Linked DNA regions of Homo sapiens: all the other regions are linked to region 4. The links come from fine-mapping of genetic effects on gene expression. A gene starts in region 4. Each other region holds a variant in brackets. All regions are shown on one strand. Distances are between the middles of the regions. Region 1 overlaps CELSR1 (cadherin EGF LAG seven-pass G-type receptor 1). Region 2 overlaps CELSR1 (cadherin EGF LAG seven-pass G-type receptor 1). Region 3 overlaps CELSR1 (cadherin EGF LAG seven-pass G-type receptor 1). Region 4 holds the start of CELSR1 (cadherin EGF LAG seven-pass G-type receptor 1). Region 5 overlaps CELSR1 (cadherin EGF LAG seven-pass G-type receptor 1). Region 6 overlaps CELSR1 (cadherin EGF LAG seven-pass G-type receptor 1). Region 7 overlaps CELSR1 (cadherin EGF LAG seven-pass G-type receptor 1).

Evidence for each region.
Region 1: its variant is fine-mapped to the expression of CELSR1 in whole blood (TOPMed, PIP above 0.99).
Region 2: its variant is fine-mapped to the expression of CELSR1 in whole blood (TOPMed, PIP above 0.99).
Region 3: its variant is fine-mapped to the expression of CELSR1 in testis (GTEx, PIP above 0.99). The same link has a PIP of 0.9 or more in atrial appendage, spleen, sun-exposed skin and unexposed skin.
Region 5: its variant is fine-mapped to the expression of CELSR1 in whole blood (TOPMed, PIP above 0.99).
Region 6: its variant is fine-mapped to the expression of CELSR1 in whole blood (TOPMed, PIP above 0.99).
Region 7: its variant is fine-mapped to the expression of CELSR1 in tibial nerve (GTEx, PIP above 0.99).

What each region holds. Positions count from the first base shown.
Region 1 is chr22:46,419,239-46,423,646 of GRCh38, forward strand. All of the region lies in intron 5 of CELSR1 (cadherin EGF LAG seven-pass G-type receptor 1), which reads right to left. Among named protein-coding and RNA genes, the nearest start is that of TRMU, 86 kb to the left of the region's middle. RefSeq lists a silencer at 2,036-2,085. The variant A/G (reference allele first, on the strand shown) is at 2,238.
Region 2 is chr22:46,363,106-46,367,513 of GRCh38, forward strand. CELSR1 (cadherin EGF LAG seven-pass G-type receptor 1) reads right to left here. Exons shown (of 35, transcript NM_001378328.1): 29 at 3,888-4,013; 30 at 3,281-3,375; 31 at 2,481-2,584; 32 at 2,126-2,275; 33 at 1,407-1,631; 34 at 891-1,146; 35 at 1-142. The coding sequence ends at 118. Among named protein-coding and RNA genes, the nearest start is that of TRMU, 30 kb to the left of the region's middle. The variant G/T (reference allele first, on the strand shown) is at 2,133.
Region 3 is chr22:46,396,115-46,400,522 of GRCh38, forward strand. CELSR1 (cadherin EGF LAG seven-pass G-type receptor 1) reads right to left here. Exons shown (of 35, transcript NM_001378328.1): 10 at 3,603-3,788; 11 at 2,410-2,523; 12 at 1,560-1,734; 13 at 491-632. Among named protein-coding and RNA genes, the nearest start is that of TRMU, 63 kb to the left of the region's middle. The variant T/C (reference allele first, on the strand shown) is at 2,464.
Region 4 is chr22:46,535,073-46,539,480 of GRCh38, forward strand. It overlaps CELSR1 (cadherin EGF LAG seven-pass G-type receptor 1), which reads right to left and starts at 2,548. Exons shown (of 35, transcript NM_001378328.1): 1 at 1-2,548. The coding sequence starts at 2,098.
Region 5 is chr22:46,481,446-46,485,853 of GRCh38, forward strand. The region is part of intron 1 of CELSR1 (cadherin EGF LAG seven-pass G-type receptor 1); the gene reads right to left. It also overlaps the pseudogene FAM136EP. Among named protein-coding and RNA genes, the nearest start is that of CELSR1, 54 kb to the right of the region's middle. The variant C/T (reference allele first, on the strand shown) is at 1,935.
Region 6 is chr22:46,431,260-46,435,667 of GRCh38, forward strand. It overlaps CELSR1 (cadherin EGF LAG seven-pass G-type receptor 1), which reads right to left. Exons shown (of 35, transcript NM_001378328.1): 5 at 2,134-2,222. Among named protein-coding and RNA genes, the nearest start is that of TRMU, 98 kb to the left of the region's middle. RefSeq lists enhancers at 1,310-1,359, 1,930-2,049. The variant G/A (reference allele first, on the strand shown) is at 2,221.
Region 7 is chr22:46,515,016-46,519,423 of GRCh38, forward strand. The region is part of intron 1 of CELSR1 (cadherin EGF LAG seven-pass G-type receptor 1); the gene reads right to left. Among named protein-coding and RNA genes, the nearest start is that of CELSR1, 20 kb to the right of the region's middle. RefSeq lists enhancers at 1-172, 2,121-2,886. The variant C/T (reference allele first, on the strand shown) is at 2,566.

The DNA of each region.
Region 1 (4,408 bases), 120 kb before region 4:
GGGGTCTTCTTGCCAATGACAAATGAAGGGCCAAAATGCAGTGAGATACAGCGCCTTCTTGGAAAGCAACACGTTCCTTCTCTTGGGGATTTTATAGGCAAAAAGTTGCTTGGTACAACCTGAGGGACCCTCCTCAAGCACTCAACAAGAAGCTCACTCATGTTCCTCTATGGGTGGGAGGCATCTCAATCCTAATGCTACTCCCAGCTAGAGAAATCCTGACAAGCGGGACAAGGAGGAACGCACACTTCCGAGCTGCAGCCTCCCGGGGCCTGCCTCCTCCACACGGGCACCGGGACAGAGTGCCTGGGATGGGGCCTCTGAGCTCAGCCCCCACAACACAGTAGCCTGAGTGTCCCGGGAAAAACAGGAGAAAACTTCAGGAAGGATGGCAGGTGGGCTACAGTTCCCTCGAAAATGACTTTTCTGAGCAAGCAAAAAAGCTTACCAAAAATGTGTACACTCGCCCACTCACACTCACGTGTGTACACTCACCCACACTCGTGCATACTCAAACCCACACGTGCACACTCACCACTCACACTCAAATGCGCCCTCACCCATGCACATGCACTCATACTCGTGCACATTTACCCACGCTCACGTGCATACCCGCATTCACACCCACATGTGCACTCCCACACGTGCCTTCTCACATTCATGTGCATTTATTCATACGCTCACACGTACACTTACCCAAACTCATGCACACTCACCCACGCACACGTGCACTCACCCTTATGTACACTCACCCACAATCATGTGCATACTCAAAACCCACGTGCACTTACCGACACTCACACTCAAATGTGCACTCACCCACACGTGCGCTCATACTCACATGTGCACACCTACCCACACTCGTGCATACTCATCCACATTCACACTCACATATACACTCACCCACTCAAATGTGCCCTCACCCACACGTGCACTCATTCATACTCACATGTGCACACCTACCCACACTCGTACATACCCACATTCACACCCACATATGCTCACCCACACTCAAATGCACTCGCCCACACACGTGCACTCATATATGCACACTCAGCCACTCATGTGCACTCACGTATGCACTCACCCACTCGTGCACTCATGTGCACATTTACCCACATGTGCATGCTCACCCACTCAAATGTGCACTCACCCACACATTTACACGTGTGCTTCTTCACACACGTGCACACACCCACACACATGCATACTCACCCAGGTGCACTCACCCACTCACGTATGCACTCACACGTGTGCACACGTGGACACACCCACTCACATCATTCATACTTGCATGTGCACACACAGATATACTAGCACACACTTGTGTGCACACATGCTCACCCATACTCGTGCTCATGCTTGCACAATATACTCACCTGTACACACTCACCTTGCACACAGTCTTGCACACTAACACATGCTCATACAAAGTCATGGCCTGCTCCTGTAAAGACCTAATAGTCCCCTCTCTGTCCTCGATCTGGGCCCGCGGGACCCCCTTCCTTAGTCCCCCTGCCTCTTCTTGCCCTGATGACCTTTCTGACCAGCCTCCCTCCCTCCTGGCCTGCATCCCACTAAGGGGTGACATGCTCAGTATCTGTGTGATAAGGTGAAGGTGGGGAGAGGGCTGAATTGGGGGACAGAGCATGGAAGCGCCTGGATAAGACAGGGAGAAGGTGGGGGCCGGGGATGGTCACGGCAGGAAAACGCGACAGCCCTCGGATGGCACGTCCCAGAGCAGCGGATACACGGGTGGGTGAGAGATGCTGGGTCCATGGCTCCGCCTAAACCCGGCCCTCCCATCATCTACTCTGTGCTTCAGTTTCCTCATCTGTGAAACAGCAACAGCACCTCCTCCTCCAGGAGCTAACATGAGGATCACGTGGGGGACACACATGAGCCTGGCACAAGACAGGACATCAGCCAGTACACTTCAGCCACCACCACCCTCCCTGCCGAGGTGCTGGGGGGGTAGAGGCGGGAAAGGCCAGGAGCCCAGAGAGGGGAGGGAGGCAGCCGTGGCACAGTGCATCTCAGAGCCCCAGCAGTGAGGGGTTGGGTGGGGTGGGAAGGATGGGGGTGAGACAGAGGCTGCTGGAGGACAGTGGCTATGATGCCAGACAGGAAGCAACCTCAGCCGGGCGTGAAACTGAGGGCTGCTCCAGCCCTGGGGCGACTTTCCATAACAGGGTTCTGTAACACAAAGGCCCAGGGTGGGGCGGCGCTTGCCTCCG[A/G]GAATCACCACGTTTCCATAGCAGGTGACTTTCTACCACCTGACCAGGCCTGTGTTTGGGAACGGAAACCAAGTGACTTATCTGTCACATCACATAGCAGCATCGGGGCAGCCCCCACCTGCCACAGCGCCTGCAAGCAGGGCCCTGCACCACCTTTCTGGCAGAGCTCGCTAGCCACCTGAAGACCCCTCTATCGGCTTCTATGCCCCCATCACTTGGGCTCAAGGAGGCAGGAACATCCTGAGTCCGAGATGCAGGGTAAGTAAAGGCAGTGGCCGCCGACTTCACCAACTGATGGGAGCACGTGCAGACTGCCTTAGCAGAGGCCCCACTAGTGGATTTGACAGAACACCTGCTGGGGCTGGAGAAGCCAGGGAAGCTCACGAAGGGCGTGACCTTTCACGCAGCCACGGAACACCTGGGGAGCATCCCCATCCCCTCCTCTTAAACACGGAACTTCCTATGAGACAGAATCAAAGCCAACAAGGCCCTGAGGGCAAAATTACCAGCCTGCATGGCCACCTCCTTTATCATAAGGATTTTACATACTTTGCAAGGCTTAATTAACTTTGTAAAAGTTTAGCTTCTTTATCTTACATATTCTGTATATCCAATTATCTTTTTGTTTATTTTTTTTGTTTTATTTTTGAGACAGAGTCTCACTCTGTCGCCCAGGCTAGAGTGCAGTGGCACGGTCTTGGCTCACTGCAACCTCTACCTCCCAGGTTCAAGAGATTCTCCTGCCTCAGCCTCCCGAGTAGCTGAGATTATGGGCACCTGCCACCACGCCCGGCTAATTTTTTTGTATTTTTAGTAGAGATGGGGTTTTGCCAGGTTGGCCAGGCTGGTTTTGAACTCCTGACTTCAAGTGATCTGCCTGCCTCGGCCTCCCAAAGTGCTAGGATTACAGGCGTGAGCCACCGTGCCTGGCCCTCAAATGATTTTTTTAAACAGAATATTTAAAAGAAAAAACCAGGGCCGGGCGCAGTGGCTCACACCTGTAATCGCAGCACTTTGGGAGGCCAAGGGGGGGCGGATCACGAGGTCAGGTGACTGAGACCATCCTGGCCAACACGGTGAAACCCCGTCTCTACTAAAAAAAAATAATAATAATAAAAAATAAATAAATAAATAAATAAAAATTAGCCGGGCATGGTGGTGGGCGCCTGTAGTCCCAGCTACTCAGGAGACTGAGGCAGGAGAATGGTGTGAACCCAGGAGGTGGAGCTTGCAGTGAGCTGAGATCACGCCACTGCACTCCAGCCTGGGCGACAGAGCGAGACTCCATCTCAAAAAAAAAAAAAATGGCTCATAGTCCCATGACCCAGATAACTGCTATATTGTTTTTTTAAATACAAAGAACTCAAGTGCATGTAAGAAGGCACAGAAGGGCATAAAAGGAACACGAAATCCACCTCACTTTGCATTCTTCTTCCCATTGGTATCCACCTTTGCTATAAGGGCCACGATGATGCCTCCTGCACTGTACGTCTGGCCTCTGCAATGCCACCTCCTGGCTCTTGCCACCAATGGTCCATGTCTCTACCTAGAGGCTGGGCTTGGCCACATGACCTGGGCAACAGGACATCAGGGCACAAGGACACGAGATAAGGCCTGGAAAGCACCGTGCACTGGGACTCGCCCTCTCTGGCTGCTAGGAACCCCCTGCCACCAAGTGAACGGCCAGGGTGGCCTGCTGGAAGATGAGAGGCCCCAGCTGCCATGGCTAACGGCCAGGTCATATGAGTGAGGCCTTCACACAGCCCTGGCTGAATCGCATAGACCAGAAGAACCAGCAGCCAAACCACTGCATCACCAGGAATAATAAATATCTGATCAAGACTCCATGCTGGCCAGGCGCGGTGGCTCACGCCTGTAATCCCAGCACTTTGGGAGGCCGAGGGGGGCAGATCACCTGAGGTCAGGAGTTCAAGACCAGCCTCAACATGGAGAAACCCCGTCTCTACTAAAAATACAAAATTAGCCGGGCGTGGTGGTGCAGGCCTGTAATCCCACCTACTCGGGAGGCTGAGGCAGGAGAATTGCTTGAACCTGGGAGGCAGAGGTTGCGGTGAGCCGAGATCGCGCCTTTACACTCCAGCCTGGGCAACAGGAGCGAAACTTCGTCTCAGAAAAAAAAAAAAAAAAAGACTCCATGCTTTAGGCAGTTT
Region 2 (4,408 bases), 170 kb before region 4:
CAAGGGCAGTGGCCCCTTGGGCTCCAAGGTCTGAGGGTGATGCCGCAGCCTGTGTGGGGTGACGGGCTTGCCTCACGGTTTCCTGATGGTTCAAATTGAAGTTTCATTACTGATGGTTCAAATTGAAGTTTCATTACTGCCTCTGCGCGTGGGAAGAAGCCAGCAAGCAGGTGAAGGGTCAGTGAGGGTAGCGGCTTGGTGGGGCCCAAGGTTGTCACACGGGGGGGCAGGATCACCCCATCAGGGTAGAGGGGGCGTCTGGGGGCTCCAGGGAGGGCAAGCTCATGTTGGATGAGGCTGCCCTTGGGAGGCAGGAGAGGGGACCAGGACCAGCCTGTGGGCCTCTGTGTTGCTGGTCTTTCAGAAGAGCGCAAGGAATCCACGTTAGAAACCGGCCATCTCTACAGTGACTTTTGGAAGGGGCATTCTGAAGACCTGGCTTCTCCCTTGTGAGTTTGGAGGGAGGGAGGGGCGACAGGGAGAGGTCTGGGGCCAGGACCCCAGCTCCACCCCGCCCCCTTCACCCCTGGCATTCCGGGACCCTCAGTATCCTCAACTGCAAGGTGGGTGGCAGTGGTCCCAGGCGGAGACAATGCTGATCAAACGCAGAGCCCAGCACCTTAGGTCCTAGCATTTTGGGGCTGGCCAGGGCTTCAGAGTCCCAGAGGCCTGAGACGTGTCCCCAGGATAGGGGGTCTGCCCATCTCCGGGGTATCCTCCTGACCTCAGCTGCAGCGCCTCCCCCCTCCCCCATCCCCGCCTGGGCTTCCTCTGCACTCAGGGCTCCAGGTGAGGTGGGTGTCAGGTCCCTGACCACTGCCCCCTCTCTCTCCTGACTCAGGACAAGGGGGAAGTGGGTGATCCCCGCCCTGGAGGCCCAGGCTACTCACTCAGAGTCGGAGCCATCGGCCTGGGCGCTCCCAGTGCGCACATTCATGGCCACCCCGTTGAGGTGGTCACGCCCCGGCTCCCTCCCAGGGCTCTTGACTGTGATGGCGCAGTCGGGGCCGCCAGAGCCCAGGGAAGACGTGCGCGAGGATGTGGGGCTCTGCTCACAGTCGGCCAGCTTCTCCCGGAGCCGGCCCTTCAGCGTCTGCTCCGTCAGCGTCAGCGGCGGCGGGTAGGTGACTTTATTTTTCAAGATGCCTGGGAGGAGGAGACACGGCAAGGTCAAGTCCGGGTGATGCTGCCGGGGGCAGCTGCTGGGCCGTGTGCAGCTGAGCCAGCCTCAGCCCCTGTCCTTCCTCCTGGTTCCCCGGGTCCCAGGGCTAGGCCAGGAGGCCACGTCTGTTCTGCCCAGGCCCTGACTTGCCCCACCAGCCCCAGCCCCACTCCCACCTCCAGACCAGGGACTGGCCCTTCTGGGTCCTCCAGCCTTTCACTGCAGCCCCGGCCTCCCCAGGCACCTTTCCTCTGCTCTGGGGGCTGGCTGCTAGCAAGCCTGGCTGCGCCCCCGCTCTCCTGGTCCGGGGGGTACTCTCCACGGTGACTGCCCTGCTCCTCGCGGTGCAGCTCCACGCTGACCTTGGTCTCCACCTTCAGGCGGGGCTTGCCGCTGGGGTCCTCACTGTCACTCTCAGCCAGGCTCTGGTCGGGCCAGCCGGCCGGAACGTGGTTGGCCACAGCGTCCCCTGAGGCACGAGAGCGGTGCTCAGCAGGCAGCGGCACTGCCACTCGAGCTGCTCCCTTGAGAGCCATGGGTCTGGTGGCTCTGACCCACCTCTCCCCAACCTGCAGGCCTGGTAGGGCTGAACCCTAAAGGTGGGGAAACTGAGGCCCAGGAGGGCGAGTCCTGGCAGCAGGGCCCTTGTTGGGAGCCCCCGCCGCATCTGTACCAGTAACTATACAGGCTAATCCCCCACTGGCAGCCTCACCTGGACCTTGCGGTGACAGTCCACAGAGACCCCCCTGAGAGTTCCTGCCTCCGCTCAGGGGGTTGGCCTGGAGGAGCCCTCCAGAGGCTGTGGGGGAGCCCAACCAGAGTCCCCCCACCCCAGGCTGTCCTTTCATGTGGCTGCAGTGCTGCTGGGCATATCCTGGGAGGAAGGGACCCAGCCATAGCCAAGGCCTGCCCCGAGCCCGCTGTCCACAGCCCAGCCTGGCCCAATGTGCCCCACACACTCACCTTTGGG[G/T]GTGCTGTGGACGGCGCCCCTGGCCGGGTCCCATTTTTCCTCAGCTCCCACCCCATCGTCCTCGCTGTCTGACGAGTGTGAGGAGGCGTAAGAGCTGCTCTGCTCATCCAGGGACAGCTCGCTATCTGAGTCGGAATCGTGGCCTGTGGATGCGCGGGGGACAGGGAGGCTCAGGCCCTGGGAGGTGAGGGAGTCCCACCGAGGGCCAAGCAGAGCCACTGGGCCCCTGGCATGCTGACGCTGAGCATGGCGAGGCTGCTAGTGCTTCTTCAGGGGCAGTCTGTCCAGTGACCGAAGGGACGTGGGAAAAACAACCCACGGGGTCCTCCCCCTCCAGGGAAGCCATACCAGGGGGATCCTTGCAGCTCCTGGGCATGAGGGACGCGTCTGGCTCTCCGTGGCTGCCCCTCACCAGCCCAGAGGACACGCCGAGCTTCTGGATCCCTTCATCCCTAGAGAGGCCAGGGAGGGTGGGCTCAGTATCATCCGTCAGGGAACAGGAGGTGCTGGAAAGTTCTCTGGAAGATTCTCTGCCCCTACCCCTTCTGTGTTCCCAACAACAGCACAGACAAAACAGCCTCCCGAGTATGTGGGGGAAAGGTGGTGGGGGGAAAGGTTGGGTGGGGGGAAGGTGGTGGGTGGAAAGGTTGGGTGGGGGAAGGTGGTGGGGGGAAAGGTTGGGTGGGGGAAGGTGGTGGGGGGAAAGGCTGGGTGGGGGAAAGGTGGTGGGGGGAAAGGCTGGGGGGGAAGGTGGTGGGGGGAAAGGTTGGGGGGAAGGTGCTGGGGGAAAGGTTGGGGGGAAAGGTTGTCAGGGGAAAGGTGGAGGGGGAAGGTGGAGGGGGGAAGGCTGCGGGGGGAAGGTGCAGTGCGGGGAAGGTGCGGGGGGGAAGGTTGCACGGGAAAAGGTTGGTTGGGGGAAGTTGGTGGGGGAAAGGTTGTTGGGGGAAGGTGCAGGGGAAGGGAAGGTGCGAGGCGGGGAGGGAAGGTGCGGGGCAGGGAGGGAAGTTGCGGGTGGGAAGAAGGTGCGGGTGGAAAGTTGGGGGTGGAAGGTGATGTTGGTTGAATGGCAGGACACAGGTTGGGGTGGCAGGGGCAAAACCTGAGGGAGTTCGAGAGCCACCTCCCCGAACCCGGAGCTGCGGCCTGACCTGACGATGCTGTCCAGCGAGGCGGTGGACTCGCCCAAGTCTGTGCGCAGCATGTCAGGCCCGTCACCGAAGGTGGTGTTGCAGTTGAGGGAGCGCTGAAGGGAGGGGAGGGGCTGGTCACTGCCAAGTGGTGGCCACCACATGACCACCACGGGGAATGACTCTGTCCCCACGGCAAGCCCCCCACACCCACACCCTGGCTGGGCCCCTGCCTGGCACACAGGAGGAGCTGGCCCCAAGCAGTCAACCCTCACTGCAAACGAGAGCCTCCTGGCAGCTGAGGGAAGCACATCCTGGCCCGCGCTGTGGTCAGGGGCTGCCGCCCTCCCTACGGCCACTGCTTCTGGTCAGGATCCTCGGTGGTCCTGACCCTCTCTTTCTAAGGCCTGGAAGAGCAGGGTTAGGATGCGACCCAGGCCCCATCTGGCCGATTCTGTCACTTTCTGGTTCTGACGCGGCAGCCACACCGTGCACCGCGGGCGGCTCTGCCATCCCCACCGTGAGGGGCATACGGGCCGCAGGACTGGGGCTGAGGCTCGATCACCCTCCCCCGCCCCTCGAGATGCCGCCCAGCCCCCAGTCCCGCGGTGTCCCCGGCGCCTCCTACCGTCAGCAGGGTGGCCCTGGTGGTGGCGGAGTCCTCCAGGTGCAGCTTCCTCCCGCCGAGCACGCCCTTCAGGTGCTTCCGGACCTCCTGGTTGAGCACGCAGTGGAAAAGGAGGACGAAGGGGCCCTGGAGGGAGGAAGGTGGGGTCAGCACCTGCTGCTGCCTCCCTAGGCACCTGCCCTTAGGCGCCCCAGCACAGATGCGCATACAGCCTTGAGTGCACACAACATGTCCGGCCACACGGCCCAGGACACGGCCAGGCCTCCCCTCCTCAGGGACTGCTGCTATCTGGAGGCCAGGTGGGGGAGCTCAGAAACTGAGATGCCTGGGCCAGACCCCCGGTGTGCTGGAGGCAGTGAGGGCCCCGGCTCAGGCCAGTCTTCTGGGCACTCCTTCCACAGTCCTTGGGGCCCCTCTGGGGTCCCCACTGTGTCGTAAGTCCACTTGCTGTGTGGCCCTTGGTATGACTAGAAATGGCCACTTCTGTTCCCTGGAGACACAAGTGGACTTGTGCTGGCCTG
Region 3 (4,408 bases), 140 kb before region 4:
GATTCTCATTGCCCAAGCGTGGTGGCTCACACCCGTAATCCCAGCACTTTGGGAGGCTGAGGCAGGTGGATCACTTGAGGTCAGGAGTTCGAGACCAGCCTGACCAATATGGTGAAACTCCATTTCTACTAAAAATACAAAATATTAGCTGGGCATGGTGGCGGGCACCTGTAGGACCAGCTACTCGGGAGGCCGAGGCAGGAGAATCACTTGAGCCCAGGAGGCAGAGGTTGCAAGGAGCCAAGATCGCGCCATTGCACTCCAGCCTGGGTGACAGAGCAAGACTCTGTCTCAAAAAAATAAAAATAAAATAAAAATTAAAAAAAATTTGATTTTCACTTAATTCATGCCAAATTAAAAAAAAATATGTCCCTGTTACCCAGAATCACACATATCTTTGGGTCAAAATAAGAAAGAGAAGACACTGAGTCGAGGGAACACAGCCACATGGACTCTGAAGGTGCAGGGAGGCACCAGGGGCTGCTCTTACTTGTTCTCACAGTACGGCCCGTAGTGACTGGGCCCACACTCGCACACGTAGCCCTGCGGGGAGCCGGGGGAGCGCACGCAGGCCCCCATGTTCTCGCAGGGGTTCAGGTGACAGGCATCCACACAGTTTATTCCAAGGTACCCTGCAAGGACAGAGCCAGCATTACCTCCACCCACAATCCACGAGACCTTCCACGTTAAAATATCTGGAGCAACCTGTCCCCTCCAGAAGATCTGACTTTCCCTGGTACTCAGCAGAGGGAAGAGGAAGAGTGCCACAGAGTCCCCGAAAACACAGCGTTAGGCGGGTTAGACTTAGTGATGCAGAGAGGAAGGCCTTCCCGGGCTGCCCCAAGGAGGGTGAGAGCCTTGGAACACGGGGCCCAGGCTGCCCCAGGACACATGGGGAATGGCCACCAGCAGAAGATGACTTAAGCACCTCAAAACTCTGAGGCCACCCTGAATGGAGGATTTTCTTAATATGCACTTTTCACTAATTCTTTTATTTATTTATTTATTGAGAAGAGTCTTGCTCTGTTGCCCAGGCTGAGGTGCAGTGGCATGATCTCAGCTCACTGGAACCTTTGCCTAAGAAGCTCAAGTGATCCTCCCACCTCAGCCTCCCACGTAGCTAGGACTACAGATGCGTGCCACCATGCCTGGCTAATTTTTGCTTTTTTTTTTTTTTTTTTTTTTTTCGTAGAGATGGGGTTTCACCATGTTGCCTGGCTGGTCTTGAACTCCTGGCTTCAAGTGATCCACCCACCTCGGCCTCCCAAAGTGCTGGGATTACAGGTATGAGCCACTGCACCCGGCCTTACTTTTCACTGTTTCTTTGCTGATCACCCCATGTGCTGAGGAGAGCGCCTGGGGCACTCTGTGCCTTGAGTAAGGAAGAGGCTCAGAGTCTCTCTCTAGGAGGGGCCCGCTTGTTATAAAATAAAGCTCAGGGCTCCACGGAACCACAGGGAGTTGGCTGGGGACGCTAATGTCTAAACTGAGCCCCCCTCCTGTGTTTCAGCCATAAGAGACCTCCCTGTCACTGAAGGGCCCCGGGAGGGCGGTCCCACCTTTGTCACAGACGCAGCTGTAGTCCTCCCAGGCGTCGTGGCAGCGGCTATTGGGGGGACAGGGGCTCGAGGTACAGGGGTCGTCCACATCACAGCCGTCCTTCACCCTGACCTTGAGTGCGTTGTTCATGTTCAGGGTGGCGACGTTGGTGGGCGTCCCCCCCATCCTCACTCCCTGCATTAAGTAAACGGCACTGGGGCTACAGGAGCCCGGAAAGGTATGTAGGGGTTAAGGGAACCCTGAGACCTCTCTGGTCCCTTGCGAGGCATTCATCTGTGATGCCTCATTTATCTACAGAGCTGGGGCGGGCAGGGTTGTTCCTCTTGCCCCACGGCCTGCTGGCCGGAGTGCAGTGGAGGGCTGGGTGAGGAGCTCAGAGGGCACGCCAGCCTGAGCTCCTGGGGTGCGCGGTGGGGGCGTGAGGAGTGGATGTCCCTGCCGAGGGGGCTGAGAGCTGAACGACTCAGAGCAGCTCCCTCGGCCGTAGCTGGAACCCCTGGCTCCAGGGGACAGGCACGGGGCCCACTTGGGTGACGTCTGTGGTTGGACTGGGTGGGGGTGGCGGCAAGGGGCTCGATTCAGGACACTTCACAAAGGCAGAGGGGCAGGTGGCTGGCATGGCGGTGGGGAGCTGTGGGGGCCAGGGACGGCCCGGATGCCAAGGGGAACCGCAGGGGAGAATGGGTCTGAAGAGGAAACAGGAGCTGTTAAAGTGGGGATGCCTGTCAGACAAATTCTTCACTCGTTGAAAGCTAACAGGTTGACCAACGGAACCACCTATGGTGCTGCCAGCCTCGGAGCTGCCTGTGAGGGGCAGGCCTCCCCCCGCCCCCCACAACCCCCACGCACCTGCATGCAGCCTCGGAATCCACGGCGCACGGAGACCTTGTCTTCAGAGGCGCC[T/C]CCGACCACCACGCTCCTTACCGTCAGCCCGGGAAGCATGCCCCCGATATCTGCCTTGTTCTGTGCGGAGAGAGGGGCCGGGGATCTGGGGGCTGCATCCACCATCCTAGAAACGTCTCTCAGATGGGAAGGATACACTGGAAGTCTAAACAGTCACTTCAACAAACTCCGCAGAGCCTGAGGACATCTGGGCCTCCAAAGAGAGAGCTGGGCCCAGCTGGACAGCGAGGCTGGCTGTGATGACCAGGGCGAGGGGACCAGGCCAGAGGATGGGTGTCCATGCCCCAGCCTAGCTGAGGCGGCCAGTGGGGTCAACGTGGGCAACTGTCCCGCCTCCGTCAAGGGCACAACACTAAACCAGCCACGCTGTGACAGAGAGCTTGGCGAGTCAGGAAGACTGCAGTGAACGGAAATCCGCTCACTCATTAACACTGTGGGAACCCAAGAGGGTCTCGGCTGAGATCCAGTCCCAGAAAGGCAGGTGCCTGGAACACACCTATTTACTCCCAGGTCTGTGTTGTAAGATGAGCCTTGGCTCCAAGAGCTCTTGGAGATCCCAGGTCGCCCCTTAAGTGTGTGGGCATTTCACAGACAACATCTTGGGTTACCTGCCTGCAAACTGTGGAAACCTAGTTTGGTTAAGTGTTCCGAACATTGTCTGGGATACCACCACCTGCCTGCCTGGGACATGTGTGGCTCCCTGGTGTCTCACAGGCCTGTCCAGGACCTGGGTCTCACTGCTCTCCCAGTTTTGCTCCCCATCCATGCTCTGAGGGCACGGGCCCCAGCATTGCTACTTCAGTACCCTAAAGACATGGTGCTGAGCCTGCAGGTGTTGCTCAAGATGGCTTTGCTAAAAGAAACCACTGCTGAAGGCACCAACAGCATCATGATGAGAAATGCAGCTGGAGGAAGTCAGCTGCTGACTGCCGGGGGCGGGGCATCCGGATGAAGGAGGTGAGGAAGATGCCAGTGACCTCAGTACAGGGCAGAACAGAAGCCCACCTGCGGGGACCCAGAAAGTGCCTCCCCAAATCCACAAGGTCTCTGGTGGGTCCTGGCACGTCAAGGGGTCATTCTGTTTTTCCCTGGGCCGGAGGAAGGGTCTATCCCCAGAGGAGGTGCAGGTGCCAGCTCACCTGGTCCATCCCATAGTCCAAGGTCATGGTGACCAGGTGCTTCATCTCACTGTCCTCCTTAACATTCTTCAGCTCGATCAGCAGGTGGTGCCACTCCCCGTCGGTCACCCGCAACCCGGACAGCATCACGGACTCCACATCGGAGGGGCCGTGGGACACCTCAAACTGGAGGTAGTTGTTCAGGATCTGGAGCAGGGAGAGCCACACCGACTGATTGGTACAATGACAATGAAAGAGAAAACATTTTGCAGTCACTTAAACAAGGAAGCTGTGAAAGGAGACTGATTATGTGGCACCAGATACAAGATAGGCTTAAAAATTAGGCAAAGTTGGCCAGGTGCGGTGGCTCAGGCCTGTAATCTCAGCATTTTGGGAGGCTGAGGTGGGTGGATCACCTGAAGTCAAAAGTTCGTGACCAGCCTGGCCAACATGGTGAAACCCCATCTTTACTAAAAATACAAAAATTAGCTAGGTGTGGTGGTAGGTGCCTGTAATCCTGGCTACTCAGAGGCTGGGGCAGGAGAACTGCTTGAACCTGGGAGGTGGAGGTTGCAGTGAGCTGAGATCGCAGCATTGCACTCCACCCTGGGTGACAGAGCGAGACTTGGTCTCGAGAAAAAAAAAAAGTTAGGCAAAGTTGGCTGGGAGCAGTGGCTCAGGCCTTTAATCCCAGCACGTTGGGAGGCCACAGCAGGCGGATCACCTGAGGTCACGAGTTCAAGACCAGCCTGGCCAACATGGTGAAACCTGCCTCTACTAAAAATACTGAAATTAGCCAGGCATGGTGGCAGGCACCTGTAAGCCCG
Region 4 (4,408 bases):
CATCCTCATTCAGACGAAGCTCGTAGGTGGGCTGCGTGAACACCGGGTCGTTGTCATTCACGTCCAGCACCGTGATGGACACGCTGGTGGAGGAGCTCATGGGGGGCGAGCCGTGGTCCACCGCCTCCACCCCGAAGCTGTAGTGCTCCACCTCCTCGCGGTCCAGCTCGGCACACACTGTGATCCAACCGGAGCTGTTGTGGATCTGGAAGGGGAAGTCAGGGGTGGGGGCAGGATTCTTAGGCCCAGCGCTGCCGCCCCCCAGAAAGGTGGAGGCCGTGTCCACCAGGCGATAGTGCAGCCGGGCGTTCTCTCCAGAGTCCGCGTCCACCGCCTGAATGTGCACCACGGGGTAGCCCAGGGGCACATTCTCCAGCACCGTGGCCTGGAAGGGGCTGCTCACAAAGATAGGCTCGTTGTCGTTGACATCCAGCACCTGCACAGACACCACCCCTGAAGAATTGATGAGCGGGGGCCGGCCCCCATCCTGGGCCTTAATGCTCAGCGAGTATTTCTGGACATCCTCGAAATCCAAGGGGTTGATCACATCCAGGATCCCGCTCAGCGAGTGCAGGTAGAACTGGCCGGCCACGTTCCCGCTGAGGATGCTGTAGTGAATGGCCGCGTTCTGGCCCTGGTCCCGGTCCGTGGCCTGCACTCGCAGCACAGCCGTGTTGAGCCCCACGTCCTCGGGCACCTGGACCACGTAGTTCTGCTCGCTGAACTGGGGGTAGTTGTCGTTCTCGTCCTCCACCTCGATGTACACGGTGGCCGTGGCACTGAGCGGGCCCGGATTGCGCCCCTGGTCGTTGGCCTCCACCAGGAGCTGGTACTCGGCCGCCTCCTCCCGGTCCAGCACCGCCCGTGTGCTCACCACGCCAGAGCTCTCGTTGAGCTGGAAGACGTCCCACGCGCCCCCCAACACGCGGTAACGCAAGTTGGCGTTGATGGGCGAGTCGCGGTCGCTGGCGCGGATGGTCAGCACCTCGTAGCCCACCTCCAGGTTCTCCCGCACGCGCTCGCGGTACTCCGACTGCTCGAAGACCGGGCTGTGGTCGTTGGTGTCTTTGACCAAGACAGTGATGTAGGTGGTGGCCGAGCGCGGCGGCGTACTGTAGTCCACGGCTTTCACCCTGAGGACGTGCGTCTCCTTGGTCTCGCGGTCCAGTACGCTGTCCGTGCTCACGGCGCCCGTGGCAGAGTCGATTCGGAAGTAGCCCCGGGAGCGCTCGTCGAACAGCCCCTCCATGTAATAGCTCACGCGCTCCTCCTCGCCCTCGATGGTGTAGTGCGCGTGCAGCTGGAGGATGAGGGTGCCCGCCGGTTCGTTCTCAAACAACGCCACCTGGTAGTTGGGCATCGGAAACTTCAGGCTCCCTCTGCCGCTCGTGCCCCGCCGGGCCCGTCGCGCCGGCCCCGCCCGGGCTTCGGGCAAGTTCGGCGGCAGGGGCGGCGATGGGGATGGCGACGCGGAGGGCGTCCCCGCGGTGGCGGCCTCCAGCGCCAGTCCCACCCGGACGGCGCCAGCCGCGCGCCGCAGGGCGCACAGCAGACGCAGGCGGACCGAGCCGCCCGGCGGCAGGCAGATGGGACGGCCGGGACAGCGGGGCCTGGGGCGCGGCGGGCAGCGGCAGGCGGGTAAGGTGGTCGGAGCTGCGAGCGCCGAATGCTGCGCGGCCGCGCAGCCGCCGGGGACGGGGAAGCAGAGCGCCCCGCAGAGCCGGGCACCGGTTCCGCAGAGCCGGGCACGGGCTCCGCAGCCGGGAAGGTGCGTGCGCGCCCGCAGGCGGCGGCTCAGCGCCGTCGGGGCACTGCGGGCCACCAAGCGGACTTGCAGCGGCAGCGGGCGCCCCGCGCCCGAGACGCGCCGACGTCCTGCCAGCCGCCCATCGCGGCCCACGTCCAGCAGCTCCCGCGGCGCCCGGGGCGTGCAAGCGGCGCCCACCGCGTAGGTACAGCCGGGCCGGAGGGCGAAGGCGCGGGTCCCGCCGGGTACGCGCGGCTCCCAGGCGGCCGCTCGCAGCCCCATCGCCGGCAGGGCGGCGGCGGCGGCCAGGAGCAGCAGCACGGGCAGCACGGGCGGCGGCGGCGGCGCCATGGCCCGGAGCCCGAGCCCGAGCCGGGCGCCCGAACACAATCCATGCACCCGGCGCGCCTCCGCATCCACCCGGCGAGGCCGGGGAGCGGCTCCCGGGCGCCCGGCCCTCGGGGCGGTCCGCGTCCCGCCTCCCCGGGGGCCCTGGCGGGGACTGTGGGGACCACGCGCCCGGCCTCCCCCGCAGCTTCCACTTCGAGAGCACTTTGCGAAAGTTTGCGAAGTTGGTTTCAAGATGGCTCCTCCGCGCGTCCCGGGAGGGCGCCGCGCATCAACCTGCGGCGGCGGCGGCGGCTCCAGGCGGCTCCAGGTGGCTCCGGCGCGGGCTCGGCCGGACGGGCGTGGGAAGCGGGGCGGGCCCGGCGCGGGGCGGGGGCTGAGTTCCCGGAGCGGGCTGGGCAGCTCCGCGCCGCGCAGACCCCGGCGGCCGGCTGCTGCCTGGGCGGTGCGCTTGGCCCGCGCCCACTCCGCCCGCGCTCTCCCCGCCCCCGGCCCGGCCCCGCCCCGCCCCCGGCCCAGCGGCGTATTGTTCGGCCCCGGGGGGAGCCGGCTCGGAGGTGCGCGCCGAGAGGATCGCTATGGAGACGCGAGGGCGCGGCCGGGACGGGGACTGGGGCCCTACTCCCCGGAGGCCTCCCCACCCAGCCTCCCGGTGGGGCGGGGCCGAGGCAACAGGGCCGGGAAAGGTGGGGCTGGGGCCCCCGGTGGCCGCTACCCGTGGGGCGGTGGCTCCGCACCTCGGGCTCGGGGCCGCGGCTCAGAGCCTGGCTCCCCACCCCGGCAGAACAGATCCACGGAGACCGCCGCCAGGAGTGCCGCGCGGGTAGGACCCGGGGGCGGAGGACTGGGGCCGAGAGGCCGGGGAGCCCCCCCCCACCCATTAAGGACTGCGGAGGCTGTCGAGGAGGGTTACCCATTTTACAGCAAGACGCACGGAGGCTAAAATGCTTCACCCCGACTAAAACTCCCTGGACTTTGAAGCCCAATAGGCAGCTACCGGATCTGCGTCCCACTTGGTTTAAAGCGCAACTTTTAAATGAAAGAAGAAAACCCCGGTTGACATAAGGGATTTGGAGAGGACGGCGGAGGCGCGCTCATCTCCCGCGTGCGGCCCGACCCGAGCGTTCGCGGACGCATCGCGGAATCCCCGAGCGTCCGGCTCCTCCCGAAGCGGGTTGCGGGGAAGGCGGGGGGCTGCGGGTCCTGGAAGCTGCCTGGGGCAAGCAAGCACCCGCAGGGATTTAGAGCTGTGCCACAGCCCCTGCCCAGCCTCCTACGGAGGACAGCGGGGGGCGGGGGGCAGAGACCTTAGAGCTTTCAGAAAAGTGACACACACCCCCGCCTCCTGCGGGGAACCACGGGGGGCCGGGGGCAGCTTTAGGTTTGCGTGACGGGTACACCTGCCTCCGGATGGGGCACAGGGATAAAGGGGGTGGAGGCTTAGGACTTGGCGACCCCCCGCATGGGCGGGGCTTTGGGACTGTGCCACCAGCGGCTGGGAAGGGCGCGCACTCCCTTGGTGGCGCTCGGGGCGCCGGAGTCCAGTGCAGCCCTTAGGCCTCCCAGTGGTCGGGGACGGTAGGTGGGGGTCGCCTCTTCTCTCCTAGAAGGGCTTCTCCTGGGGCCGGTCGGAGCGGTGGGGGTGGGAGTAATGCGCAGTCACCCCTAGAACGGGTCTTTTTGGCAAGGGAGGGTCGGATCCTGCAGCCAAATCTCTGAGCTGAGCTGAGATGAGTCCAGTCTCAACGAGGACCGTGGGCGGCTGTGGAGAACCGGAAGGGTTTCTCCCCCGGAGCGATGTGTCTGTGTGTGTGTCACACGCATACTCAGCCAACTTCGCTCAAAGCTGCTGAAACAGTGTCTTTGTGCTGAAGCCCAATGTGAGCATTTTCTTCCCAGTAGCAAGGATTTGAACACGTTATATTGATCTAAAAGGTGGAGTTGCTTTGGAACCTTTTAATTCGAGGTTTCCACTGGAGAGTCCTGTTGGGAAATGTGTGTGTGGAGGGAGGGGAGGAAGGAGAAAAGTCCGTCTCCTTAATGTGAGCGGTCCAGGACCTCCCCACCCGCCATATACCCTTCCACTGGGATTTTTCCGGGAAGGATGAAAGGACAGGAGTTCTGGGGCCGGAAGGCAGGGCGGGTCCCTGAGCCCGGAGCCTCCCAGTGGAAGGCTACTGGGCGGACCTGAAGGGGACCCAGGCAGGAGGAAAAACCAGAGAACCCCAGGAGTGCCTGTTTTGCAATAAGGCTTTAAGCAGAGTGGGTTGGGTTTAAATAAACAAAACTCAGCTGCAGCCAGTGGGTTCAGGT
Region 5 (4,408 bases), 54 kb before region 4:
CTTACTCCCAGCATCTATTGAATCTTTGGCTTTGTCGTTGCAATGCGTGGTGCACCGGACCAGGTGGTCCTGGAACTTCTCCAGCTCACTGGTGATCAAAGCCTGGGCTTAAGCCAGAGGCACATGGTGGCACTCGATGCACTGGTGCACCTGCTCCGTGGAGGCCTGACTGTCCTCACAACAGCTGGTGCTGCACCAGAACATGAGACAATGCATCTTCCAGATGTTCTCTCTCTCCAGACTCTTCACCATGGAGTCCACCACCTCCTGCACCCGCAGCTGCTGCAGCTCCCCAGTGGCAACCCTGTGCTGCCCCAGTTATTTGAACTTTTCTAAATCTTTTTTTTTTTTTTGAAACAGAGTCTCACTCTGTTGCCCATGCAGTGGCGTGATCTCAGCTCACTGCAACCTCTGCCTCCCGGGTTCAAGAGATTCTCCTGCCTCAGCCTCCCGAGTAGCTGGGATTACAGGCATGTGCCACCAAGCCTGGCTAATTTTTGTATTTTTAGTAGAGATGGGGTTTCGCCATGTTGGACAGGCTGGTCTCGAACTCCTGAGCTCAGGTGATCCACCAGCCTCAGCCTCCCAAAGTGCTGGGATCACAGACATGAGCTACTGCACCCGGCTGACTTTTATAAATCTTGGCCATGGCCATGTGTGGTAGACAAAATAATGTCTCACCCTCACTTCCCAAGAAGAGCTGCATGTCTCAATCCCCAGAAGCTGTGACTGCGTTATGCCACATGGCACAGGGGCACGGCCGCTCACCAGCAACCTTAACCCACGAGAGTATCCTGGAGGATCTGGGTGGCCACAGGATCCTTAAAAGCAGAGGAGGGAGGAAGAGTGGGAGAAAGAGCTTATGGGGACAGAGGAAGTCAGGGGATTCTATGCTGCTGGCCCTGAAGACAGAGGAAGGGCCATCAGCCAGAGCAGAATCTGTTCTGCCTCCCTGGGTAGCTGGAGAGGCAATACCAGATAATGAGAGCAAAGACCTGTGTAGCTCTTGCAATCCTCAGGGGACTCTAGGAGGCAGAAAATCCAATCACCCAGTTTTACTGATGAGGAAACCAAAGCACATAGAGGTTAAGTGACTTGCCCAAGGTCACAGAGGAAGTGGGTGGCAGAGTGGGATTGCATATGCCTGTAAACTCAGCTACTCGAAAGGCTGAGGCACGAGACTCACTTGAACCCAGGAGGCAAAGGTTGCAGTGAGCTGAGCTTGTGCACTGTACTCCAGCCTGGGTGAAAGAACAAAATCCCGCCTCAAAAAAAAAAGAAAATTATCTACAGGGTCCTTCATAGGGAACTCACAAGATGATTCTCTAATCTCCACAGAAGACCAATAGGTCAAGAATAGCCAAGGCATCCCTGGAGAACAGGGGAGGGGAACAAGCTCTATCTGATGTCAAGATTTATAGCCTGTAGACAAGGGAGTGCTGGCATGGAGCAGACCAACAGACTGATGGACAGAAGATGGAGCCCAGAAACAGGTCCACACGCACACACAACAGAGCTGGCAAATGGGAAAGAGGAGCATTCCCACACATGGTCCCAAGCCACTCAGCTGTCTACATAACGGACAAAGTGAAACTGGATCCCTACCTCACACCAAGCACAAACATCAATTCCAGGTGAACTAAGGACTTAAGCAGGAAAGACAAAGCCTATTTTAGCAAGGATCATTCAAAATCATGTTTATGATCTTGAGATAGGTAAGCAATTCTTAAACATGACACACAACACACTATCGTAAAGGGGAAAAAGTATGATTTTGATTACATTAAAAACAAGGACTTTAGAAAGAACCTTATTAATAAATTAATGATGAGACATTAATTAACATAAGCCACAAACTGTGAGACCCGCCTCACTGGGTGTCTAGGGCGCAGTCCTCACAGTTGAGCACACCCTCTTTATGGAAACATGCTATT[C/T]CTGACTTTTTTTTTTTTTTTTTTTTTTTTGAGACAGCGTCTCGCTCTGTCACCCAGGCTGGAGTGCAGTGGCAGCCCACAGGTTTTCCATTCAAGGTGCTTTCCCTGACAATCCCACTCTGCCACCCACTTCCTCTGTGAACTTGGGCAAGTCACTTAACCTCTATGTGCTTTGGTTTCCTCATCAGTAAAACCGGGTGATTGGATTTCCTGCCTCCTGGAGTCCCCTGAGGATTGCAAGAGCTACGTAAGTCTTTGCTCCCATTATCTGCTATTGCCTCTCCAACCACCCAGGGAGGCAGAGCAGATTCTGCTACCCCAGTGACAAGGGATGTGGGGCCCAGAAAGGCTCAGGAACTGTGCCCAGGACACACAGCTGTCTGTTGGGGATGCAGGTCGCCATCTTCCTGCCAAGGTAGAGTGAGGCCTGCAGTCTCCACGTGTCTACTCAGCTCTTTCACACCAACACTTTCAGGAGAGAAAAATAATTATTAACTGCAGAGGCTTAATGAGGATATGGAGCTGCAAGGCTTTCTAATACCAATAATTTGTACCTATTTAAGAGCAAAGGTGTAACAACAAAGGCACTGGCACCAACAGGCTCAGAAGCCACATCCCTTGCCTCCAGGTAAAGGAGCACAACTGTCAATTTCACGGAGCACAGAACATTCCCAGGCTCCCACGGGCTCCCACGCTCTGCCCTGGCTCTCAGACTCACCTGTAGGGAGGAGCGCCCCAGGCCTTCCGCCCAGAAATCCAAGGGTACAGGGCAAGAGAAGGGGAGCTGCTGGGGAGAGCCGTTACGACGGTGGGGACGGGTCCGAGGTCTGAACTGGGCACCAGTAAACCTGGCATCCACAGGGCCCACCAGCCCCAGCTGCTCAGTCCCAAGCAAGACCGCTGGGAGGGTCCTGCAGGGGACAGAGTCCCTCCTTCCACCAGCCCAGCCCAGCCCATGGTGGCAGCTGCCTCGGGCCCAGCCCTCCTCAGAAATGCAGGCTGCAGCATCTGCCAGGAACTTGGAGGAGCCACCCCTCCTAGGCCTGAAATGTGTCCCCACTCAGGGGCCCTGAAATCCCTTCCAGAATAATTTCACAGAGACCTCTTTTGAAATGCAAATACCAGGGAGAGGCTATATTAAGCCACTGACCCCTGATAGGGTTAGTGCCTCAAGTTAGAGCTGGGGGCAGCCCGGGACAGCCTGGCAAGGGGCAGCTGCGCTCACATACCACGAGAGCTACCTGGCCCACTCACTGCAGCACCTGTTTTGGCTGGGCATGGGGGTTCTGCCCCAGAGACCCTGTGGCCATCAGAGATGCTGGAGTGAGCGCTCACAGGGACCCCGCCCAGGTGCTGGGGAGGTCCGGCTGCTGCCTGAGGTCTCCAAACACTACCGAAGCCCACCTCCAGGAACAAGGATATCATCCTTGTTACTTCCAGGGACGCCTCCCTCCAATTTAGTGAATGGCGAGCAAATCATTTTCTTTGGGGGAAAAGATCAAATATTGGCCCAGACGTCTATTAATTTGCAACTTGCATTGAAACTGCTGAGAACAGAAAAGCTGAGATTTCGTTTTTCTAGTTAAATATTTGCTGAGAAAATTCCAGTCCTAAATTTCAAGAGACTGATTCAGCATGACATTAGAAGGGTCATTTGAGATGATTAACTAGAGGCTCTCGTGGAAGAAACCTGAGAGAAAGATGACGCAGGCCTCCCCGTGAAAACACTCAGTTTTAGCCAACAGAGAAAGTGTGTGTGTTAGCATCCTTGCTTTTGTCTTGATTGCAGCTTCGAGGTTTTTCTGTAGTTGAGTATTTTAATTTATTTCTTTCAGGCCTCTCTCCCCTGCCACCTCCAGATGGTGAGATTCGTTTCCAGTATTCAAAGACTAGAACAAAAACTCTCACCTCACATTGGGTTCTGCTGGAAGACAAGCCCTCCATCCTGACCTTGGCTCGGGTTCCTCTTCCCAGGCCTTTGTGAGTGGCGCCCCCAACTCCCTCTCCCTGAGGCTAATGAGCTGGATGCCTATTTTGAAACCAGTGAGTAAGAAGATTCAAGCAAAGACTCAAAGCTCCGTTTGGACGGGAGGAGGCCCATGTGCCTGGGAGGCTGCATGCGGGGCCGCCAGGCAGCTTCTGTCTGGCTCATTATGGAGGATCCGGGAGAGAAGTGAACGTCACAAGTAAAGCTGAAAATAAAATCTGGCTGGCTGAGCATCTCCAAATTGCCGAGGAGCAAAAGCTCATCTCCAAGACAGGCGGCCAGCAGGCTCCATGCACCTCTCCATCCACACCTGTGCTGTCTGCGCCCATGGGGTTTGTGTGGCGGGGACCGTTGACGCTCAGGTTCTGCACAGTGCCTCCCACAGTCTGGGGAAATGGGCGCACTGGAGCCATCAGACCCCGCAGAGGGAGAAACAGAACCCTGTTCTGCAAACGTGAACCCGTTTTGTTCAGCATGTCCTGCTTGT
Region 6 (4,408 bases), 100 kb before region 4:
ACTGTGTTCAGAGCCAGGGCGGAGTGTGGACAGAGGTGGCCACAGTGGCGTCCTGGCTGCGAGTCCCTCTGCAACTGCAGACACACTGTTGCTTCTGCCATAGGCAGATGATGATTCTGGAGTGTTGAGCACTGATGGGGAGACCAAGGCTGACTCGACCTCCCCCTGCCTACCCCCTCCCCAGCAACAAACGTTCATCTCTGGACTTGGTCTTCTGATACGTGCAGGAAGGAAAATGCGCCACCTATGCCCTATGCTTCCCTGACGATGGGGCACCGTCTCCAGGGTCCCCTGTGGCCCAGCCCTTGGGAGGCACCACCCCAGGGGGCATTGAGCTCTGGTGTCCAGCCCCAGCTGGCTGGAAGGGCACAACAGGAAGGGTCACCAGGTCAGAGTAGGCAGCGCCAGGCAGCAGGACGCAACGGCCACCCGTGCAGCTCACCCAGGTGAACGCGCTTCACACTGGCTAGCACTGCCCCACACAGCCACAGGACGGCACCGTATCAAGAAAAGACTCGGTCTTTGAAATGGACAATGGCAGCAAATAAATCCGCGTCTGTGAGGGCTACCCTCTTCCTCTTGCTCAGCCCTGAGCCCCTCACCCCACCAGCCCCTGCACCTCTGTCAAGCACATGGTTCTCCAAACATCAGCCAAGCCCCACTAGGGGTGACATCCAATGTGCGGCAGCCCAGACCCTGCCCAGACACCTGCCAGCCTTCTCTCAATATCCCCCCAAACCCCGAGCAAGCACTCAGCTCCCAAACCTCACCAGCACCTCCCATCTGCCCTCCTCCCAAATGAGGCTCAAGCTCCACCTGCCCTGGGTTGGCACTGATGGGACAGAGGACAAAAACTATGGTCTCTGTGCAGGTGACCACTACTTGGAGTCTGTGTGGCACGCCTGGGAGATGATGGGATATTCAAGGCAGATGGGAGGGGCGGGCCAGGGAGGTGGAGGGACGCCGGTGGCCAGCATGGAAAGGAGAGTGAAAGCCAGTGGAGGCGACACTACGACCTCAGGCCCAGTGGCTGGACCCCAACTGCTGGTGAGTCGCAGCCAGGCACAGTGGCTGTGAAAGAAGGAAGATGCTCTCTCCATAGAAGGACTGGGTCGATTCTCCTGGAGGACAGAGGAGCCCTCGTCTGCCAACCAAGCTTAGGCCCCAGCCTTGTGAAGTCCGGGAAGCGGGGCACAGCGGGGGTGGCCAGGCTCCAGGAGGAGCCGGTAAGACCCACGCAGACCCACGAGCAAGCGGGGGCACACCCTGGAGCTTCCCAAGAAGAGAAAAGGGATTTGCAAAATCACAGCCGTGGAAAGCACAGCATTTTGATGCAAAAAACAATGTGTTTCCTTACAAGCCAACGAACAGCAAAATAAAGTGAAACCAAAACCACCCAGCCTTCACGGCACTTCCTTGAAGAGTGTTCTGGCTCGCCAGTTACATCCAGGTACAGTGGACGATTTTGGCTACAGAGCCGTGTATGAACAGCCCAGAATTTCAGCCACTAGTAGACTCTGGCCAAGGTGGCTGCAAATGAATAAGCCCTTTCTGTGTCCCTCCCCCAGCGCAGGAGATCTCCGGGGTCCCTGTGTACCCCCCGACCCAGAGCTCTGGGTGGGACTATGACCCCAGCACAGGGCTCAGGTGTATTTACACAGACCCTCCACAAATGTGCATTTCCTAAACCATTTTTTCCAATAGCACATTTAAAAAAAAATTCAGAGCACAAATGTCTCAAGACAGAAAATCTACCAGGGCACCTTTTTTCCTTCCTTTTTTTTTTAGATGGAATTTCGCTCTGTTACCCAGGCTGGAATACAGTGGCACGATCTCGGCTCACTGTAACTTCTGCCTCCCAGGCTCAAGTGACTCTCCTGCCTCAGCCTCCTGAGTAGCTGGGATTACAGGCACCCGCCACCACGCCCGGCTAATTTTTTAATTTTTGTATTTTTGGTAGAGACAGGGTTTCGCCACGTTGGCCAAGCTGGTCTCGAGCTCCTGACCTCAGGTAATCCACCTGCCTTGGCCTCTCAAAGTGCTGGGATTACAGGCGTGAGCCACTGCGCCTCGCCCCAGGGCACCTTCTCGAGCCGCCCTGGGGCCAGGGGGAAGTGGTGGGGCCCATCTTACCTTGTTGTAGTACTGCACCTGCACAGAGTGCCACCGCCCGTCACTCACACCACTGGGAACCTTCGGTGCCACGGTCGTTGTTGTCTC[G/A]CCTGCATGGTGGGAGGGAGACCCAGAGAGAAAACAGGGGTTGGCGGGGCCTACTGGGGACCGAGGATTGCGCTGTGAGGCATCAGGGGGAGACAGGTGCACATGGCCACGTCCTCCCTCCCCTCCCCACGGCACCATGGTGGGAGGCGCCCACCACTCCATCCATTTTCTTTTCTGGTTACAAAAGTAATTCTTGTTCCTCTTTTCTGGTTTTGTTTGTTTTGAGATGGAGTCTTGCTCTGTCGCCCAGGCTGGAGTGCAGTGGCGTGATCTCAGCTCACTGCCACCTCCGCCTCCTGGGTTCAAGAGATTCTCCTGCCTCAGCCTCCTGAGTAGCTGGGATTACAGGCACCCACCACCACACCCGGCTAATTTTTGTATTTTTAGTAGAGATGGGGTTTCACCATGTTGGCTAGTCTAGTCTCGAACTCCTGACCTCGTGATCTGCCTGCCTTGGCCTCCCAAACTGCTGGGATAACGGGCGTGAGCCACCGCGCCTGGCCTTGTTCCTTTTCTAAATATGAAAAAATATAAACACGGAAAACCCATCTGTCTGTACCAGCAGCAGTCACACCTACACCGCACCAGAGGTCGAACCCTTTTTCCTATGCATTGCATCAACGTAGACAAAATCATCAAAACCAATTCCACTTTAGGTCACTTAATCAAATAAATGTCATCTCAGGCTTTTAACAACTCTTAAACCACGTAACACGTCCCATCGTGAGGTCGCGGACGCGTCTCTTGTGCATCTCTGCTTTGGGGTGTCTGTCATTTCCACCCCTTGAGCTCCTGCTGGAGTGGGGCGGGCGAGTCCCTTTGGGGATTCTGGGGCACAACCCTGAGTCAGCAGCAGCAGCTGGGAGGAAGGAGCTTCAGGGGCACCAAAGGACAGGTGCGGTGGGTACCAGGTCCCGGGCAGAGAATACCGTCTCCAGGGAACCAGCAGGAGTTCTGGAAACGGGTGTGGGAGACACTGGCCAGGGGAATAGCCTAATCCCACCTCACAGAGCCCGGAGGGCTATGGCCACCTCTCCCATGGTGGTTGGCTGCTGTTACAGGTGCCTCCCTTTCTTTATTGAGTATAGAAAACAAAGCTCCATCCTCCACCATCACACACATGTCATTCAACACGGGCCAGGGTTCTAGAGACGGAAGCAGCTCTGAGCCATCTTGGTGAACTTCCAGGTGAAGGAGGAGATGGCAGAATTCACTCCTGAAAGTCAAGTGTGCCAGGCTGAGCCTGGTGGCTCACATCTGTAATCCCAGCACTTTGGGAGGCCAAGGTGGGCGGATCACTTGAGGTCAGGAGTTCAAGACCAGCCTGGCCAACACAGTGAAACCCTGTCTCTACTAAAAATACAAAAATTAGCCGGGCATGGTGAAACGTGCCTGTATTCCCAGCTACTGGAGAGGCTGAGGCATGAGAATCGCTTGAACCTGGGAGGTGGAGGTCGCAGTGAGCCAATATTGCACCACTGCACTCCAGCCTGGGTGAAAGAGTAAGACTTTGTCTCAAAAGAAGAACAAAAACAAAAAAAAAAGTCATGTGTGCCAGAAAAACACAGATATACCTGTTGGCAGTCTGGAGAAATGTTCTTTTCTAACAACTGGAATAACATGTTTAATGGCCTTGTCGATATATTTTTTTTAAAAGAGACAGAGTCTCGCTATATTGCCCAGGCTGGTCTTGAACTTCTGAGCTCAAGCAATCTGCCCGCCTTGGCCTCTCAAAGTGCTAGGATTACAGGCATGAGCCACCTTGCCTGGCCAGCCTTGTCCAAAAAAAAAAAAAAAAAATTTTTTTTTTTTTTTTTTTTGAGATGGAGTCTCACTCTGTCACCCAGGCTGGAGTGCAATGGCATGATCTCAGCTCACTGCAACCTCCACCTCCCAGGTTCAAGCAATTCTCCTGCCTCAGCCTCCTGAGTGGCTGGGATTACAGGCAAGTGCCACCATACCTGGCTAATTTTTGTATTTTCAGTAGAGATGGGGTTTCACCATGTTAGCCAGGCTGGTCTCTAACTCCTGACCTCAGGTGATCTGCCTGCCTCGGCCTCCCAAAGTGCTGGGGATTACAGGCATGAGCCACTGCACCCGGCCAGTGTTGACATTTTTAATCTAGAGATGTACCACAATTTAATGATTCCTTGGTTTCTGAAAACATGAACCAGATCGTCCACATTTC
Region 7 (4,408 bases), 20 kb before region 4:
CCTCGCCAGCCCCTTCTAGAAAGCACCCCCAGCACCCCCTCAGCTTCAGCCTGGGCTGAGAAAAGGCTGTCTGGCAGCGTGGACCCCCCTCAGCGTCCCAGCAGAGCCAACCCCCCCCGGGGACACTCATGGGACACAGCATGGGCAGTAGGAGCCATTCCACCCGTGCATCAGCCCTCTGGCCACACTCTGGGACCTCATGGCCCTGCCCACCACTCCCAGCCCACAGCCAGGCAAGTGACCCCCACCTGGGCCCTCCTGGGGAGAGCTGCACAGCTGTCGGCAGCACAGCTGGAACCACAGCCCAGCGGTCTCAGTGCGTATCACAAAGGCTAGCTTGTGAGTGGATGCTCCCAAGTCACATGACCCCCAGGTAGGAAGGTTTGCACATGTTTCATCAGGGTAAAGGGAAAGAGGCTCACCTTAAACACAAACTCTATGAAGGCCTTAGACAGAAAATAGGAAAGCATGACAGTCTGTGTCTCCATGGTGAAGTCAGCTCTGGGAGGGCTGAGCCTGATGCAGAGTGGGTGTGCACAAGCTGCAGGGCACCCCGGGGGCTGGAGGTGGAGGACACAGCCAATAGGACGGGCCTCAGTCACACAGTGCTCAGGGCTGGGGACTCAAAGGCACAGAGGCTGAGGCTTTGTAAGTCCTGCTGGGGGATCAGGGGATGACTAAGTCACTGGGGCCTCCCCAGCCTGGCAGGCTCCTATCTGTGTAACAGGCTCCCAGCAGCCAGTGTAGGAAGGCAGCCCCGGCAGGAGGATACACCAGGACATTCCGCCCATCCTGCAGATCTCCAGCACTGACCAGCATCCACAGCACAGTCGACTGGGGTTAAGAAAGTAGGAATGAGTTCAGAGAAATGCAAATCAAAACCACAATGAGATATCATCTCACACCAGTTACAATGGCGATCATTAAAAAGTCAGGAAACAACAGGTACTGGAGAGAATGTGGAGAAACAGGAACACTTTTACACTGTTGGTGGGACTGCAAACTAGTTGAACCATTGTGGAAGACAGTGTGGCGATTCCTCAAGGATCTAGAAGTAGAAATACCATTTGACCCAGCCATCCCATTACTGGGTATATACCCAAAGGATTATAAATCATGCTGCTATAAAGACACATGCACACGTATGTTTATTGCGGCACTACTCACAATAGCAAAGACTTGGAACCAACCCAAATGTCCACCAATGATAGACTGGATTAAGAAAATGTGGCACATATACACCATGGAATACTATGCAGCCATAAAAAATGATGAGTTCATGTCCTTTGTAAGGACATGGATGAAGCTGGAAACCATCATTCTCAGCAAACTATCGCAAGGACAAAAAACCAAACACCGCATGTTCTCACTCATAGGTGGGAACTGAACAATGAGAACACTTGGACACAGGAAGGGAAACATCACACACCGGGGCCTGTTGTGGGGTTGGGGGAGTGGGGAGGGATAGCACACCGGTTTTGGGGGGTTTTTTAAAATTTTTTTTTATAGACACAGGGTCTCGCCATGTTGCCCAGGCCGGTCTTGAACTCCTGGCCTCAAGCAAGCCTCCTGCCTCGCCTCCCAAAGTGCTTGGGATTAGAAGCATGAGCCACCACACCTGGCCAGGACATACTTTTCAAAGCTCATTTGCTGCCACCTTGACACCTCCCAGGTAATTTCCTCGACCAGCTCATGTTATGTGGCTCCTCCGGCCCAACGGACCACAAAGTCCATTCCCTCCACTTCTCACCCAGGCACACGACTCTCTCAGGACACAGGCAACACCCTATGTTGTGCCAGGCAGGAAGCTGCGGGGTGGGGACTGGCAGGAAGGCAGGCGGCCGAGGGCTGTCCCCTCACCCTCCCTCCCCGTTTCCCACTGCAGCTGACCCCCACTGACCCATGCCCAGAATCCCACCTAAACCAGTGTCACGGCTGGCAAAGCCATGGGATGCCCTTTTCGTGTTTTAAAGCAAAGGAACCTTTATCACCCATAAGGGATGAGCTGGGCTCATCCACTTCCTGAGGCTGGTGACTCTGGGGGAAGAATCCAGAGGGTCTGGCTCTGGCCAGGGCAGGTTCTCACCCCAATGGATCATTCCCCTGAGGTATACAAACCACCTCCCCATCCCCCACTGCCTCAGTTTTCCCAGCTGCAGAGCATGGAGCTGCCAGGTGCAAGTTTGGCCCCTGAAGGGGCTTGGCCCATTTTCCCACTGCTCCACCTTTGCTCTGGCAAAAAATGCTGGGCCGATGACCCGCAGGAAAAACAGGAGGGAAGAGAGAATTCCTGCCACAAATGCAATGGGTTTCCCGGGCCAAACCGGAGACTTGGACGGCCGTCCAACACCAAAGCCACCGGTTTCCTGCCTACGGGGTCATCCCGGCCTGGTTTTCCCCCAAAACAGACTCCATCTGGCACTTGTCATCTTCCACGGGGCACAAGGCGGTATCTGGAGGGTAGAACCACAATGGCTGATGTGCACTGTCCCGGCGCCCCAGGCCGGCTCTTGTCTTGGTACCTCTGTCCACAGTAAGGTGCCCCTGCAGACACGCCGCAAAACA[C/T]GCCCCTGAGCTTCCCGTCCTGCACACACAGACGCACCCCTGACCTCTGACGGCCACATGCAGGACAGACAGGAAGTCTCACAGAACAATAAACCTTCATATTTTCCATTCTCTCCTCTTTGAAGAATTGGGAGAACTTGCGATTATGTGTTAGAATTTTCCATGCTTAGAAGCGAGGGCTGCATTGAAGAGGCGACTCCCATGGCTATGGCACTTGGCATTGAGACCCAGAGGGAAAGGGAGGGTGAGCTGTCATCTGAAAGCACCCACCACCCTGTGTCCCCATATTCTGTTTATTACACACCTCCCACGGTGTCCCCTTCCTTTTTTTTTTTTTTTGAGACAGAGTTTCACTTTTGTTGCCCAGGCCAGAGTGCAATGGCAGGATTTTGGCTCACTGCAACCTCTGCCTCCTGCGTTCAAGTGATTCTCCTGCCTCAGCCTCCCAAGTAGCTGGGATTACAGTCATGTGCCACCACACCCGGGTAATTTTTTTGTGTTTTTAGTAGAGATGGGGTTTCTCCATGTTGGTCAGGCTGGTCTCGAACTCGTGACCTCAGGTGATGTGATCCATCCATCTCGACCTCCCAAAGTGCTGTGATTGCAGGCGTGAGCCACCACGCCTGGCCTCGGCATCCCCTTTCTAAAGGACATCTCAAAGCACAGCGCGGCCCCTCAGCACAGACGCTGCTATCACAGCAGACCTTACTGAGGAGTCAGAGCCTGTGGGGGCACCATCAGCAGGGGCGCTCAGCCCGTGCCACACTCAGTCTCGTTAGAGGAGAACGAAGGGAGTGGGCTCCCACAGACCACATTGCACTGCGACAAGGCAAACCGATGGTGTGCTCGGGCATTCGGGTGGACAGACTGCAGATCCCACTGAGAAGGGAGGCCTCGGTTATCTGATTTAACACGAAGAAACCAGTCACACACACAAACATGAAGGCAGGCGTGGCAGTGGGTTCACTACCCTGCCCCAATGCCCAGTACCTGTGGATGTGACCTAACTTGGAAATAAAGGCTGCAGATGAAGATATAAATTAAGATGGGGCCAGGCACGGTGGCCCACGCCTGTAATCCGAGTGTGGCTGCGGTCTCTGCCTCCATCTTCACGTTGTGGCCTCCTCATTGTGTGTCTGTCTCTGTCTTCTCTCTTATAAAGACTCCAGTTGTGGCTGGGCGCGGTGGCTCGCCTGTAATCCAGCACTTTGGGAGGCCAAGGCGGGTGGATCACTTGAGGTCAGGAGTTCGAGACCAGCCTGGCAAACCTGGAGAAATCCCGTCTCTACTAAAAATACAAAAATTAGCTGGACGTGGTGGCGCATGCCTGTAATCCCAGCTACTCGGGAGGCAGAGGCAGGAGAATCGCTTAAACCCAGGAGGCAAAGGTTGCAATGAGCCAAGATTGAGCCACTGTACTCCAGCCTGGGTAACGGAGCGAGACTCTGTATCAAAAAAAAAAAACACCAACATAAAGACAAGAAAATACTGCCACGTGCTGCGCTGTGCACGACCCGGAAAACATGACACTGGCCGGGGAGAAGCCAGACACAAAAGCCCACGGGTTGGGGCTGCCAGAGGGTACAGGCTTTCCTTTGAGGGAAATGGAAATGCTTTGGAACTGGACAGGGTGGGGGTGTTGCACACCACTGTGATGTTCTAAACACCACAAAATGGCTCACATTAAAATGGTTAACTTCACGTTCTGTGAATTCCACCTCCGTAGAAACAAACAAGGACAAAGATCCAGCCAAATTGCTTCAGTGTATCCAAATGCTGATACAAATACACTTGAACCAGCGTGTGTACTGGTGGTTTTGGACCCAAGGCTTGGTCATGAAGA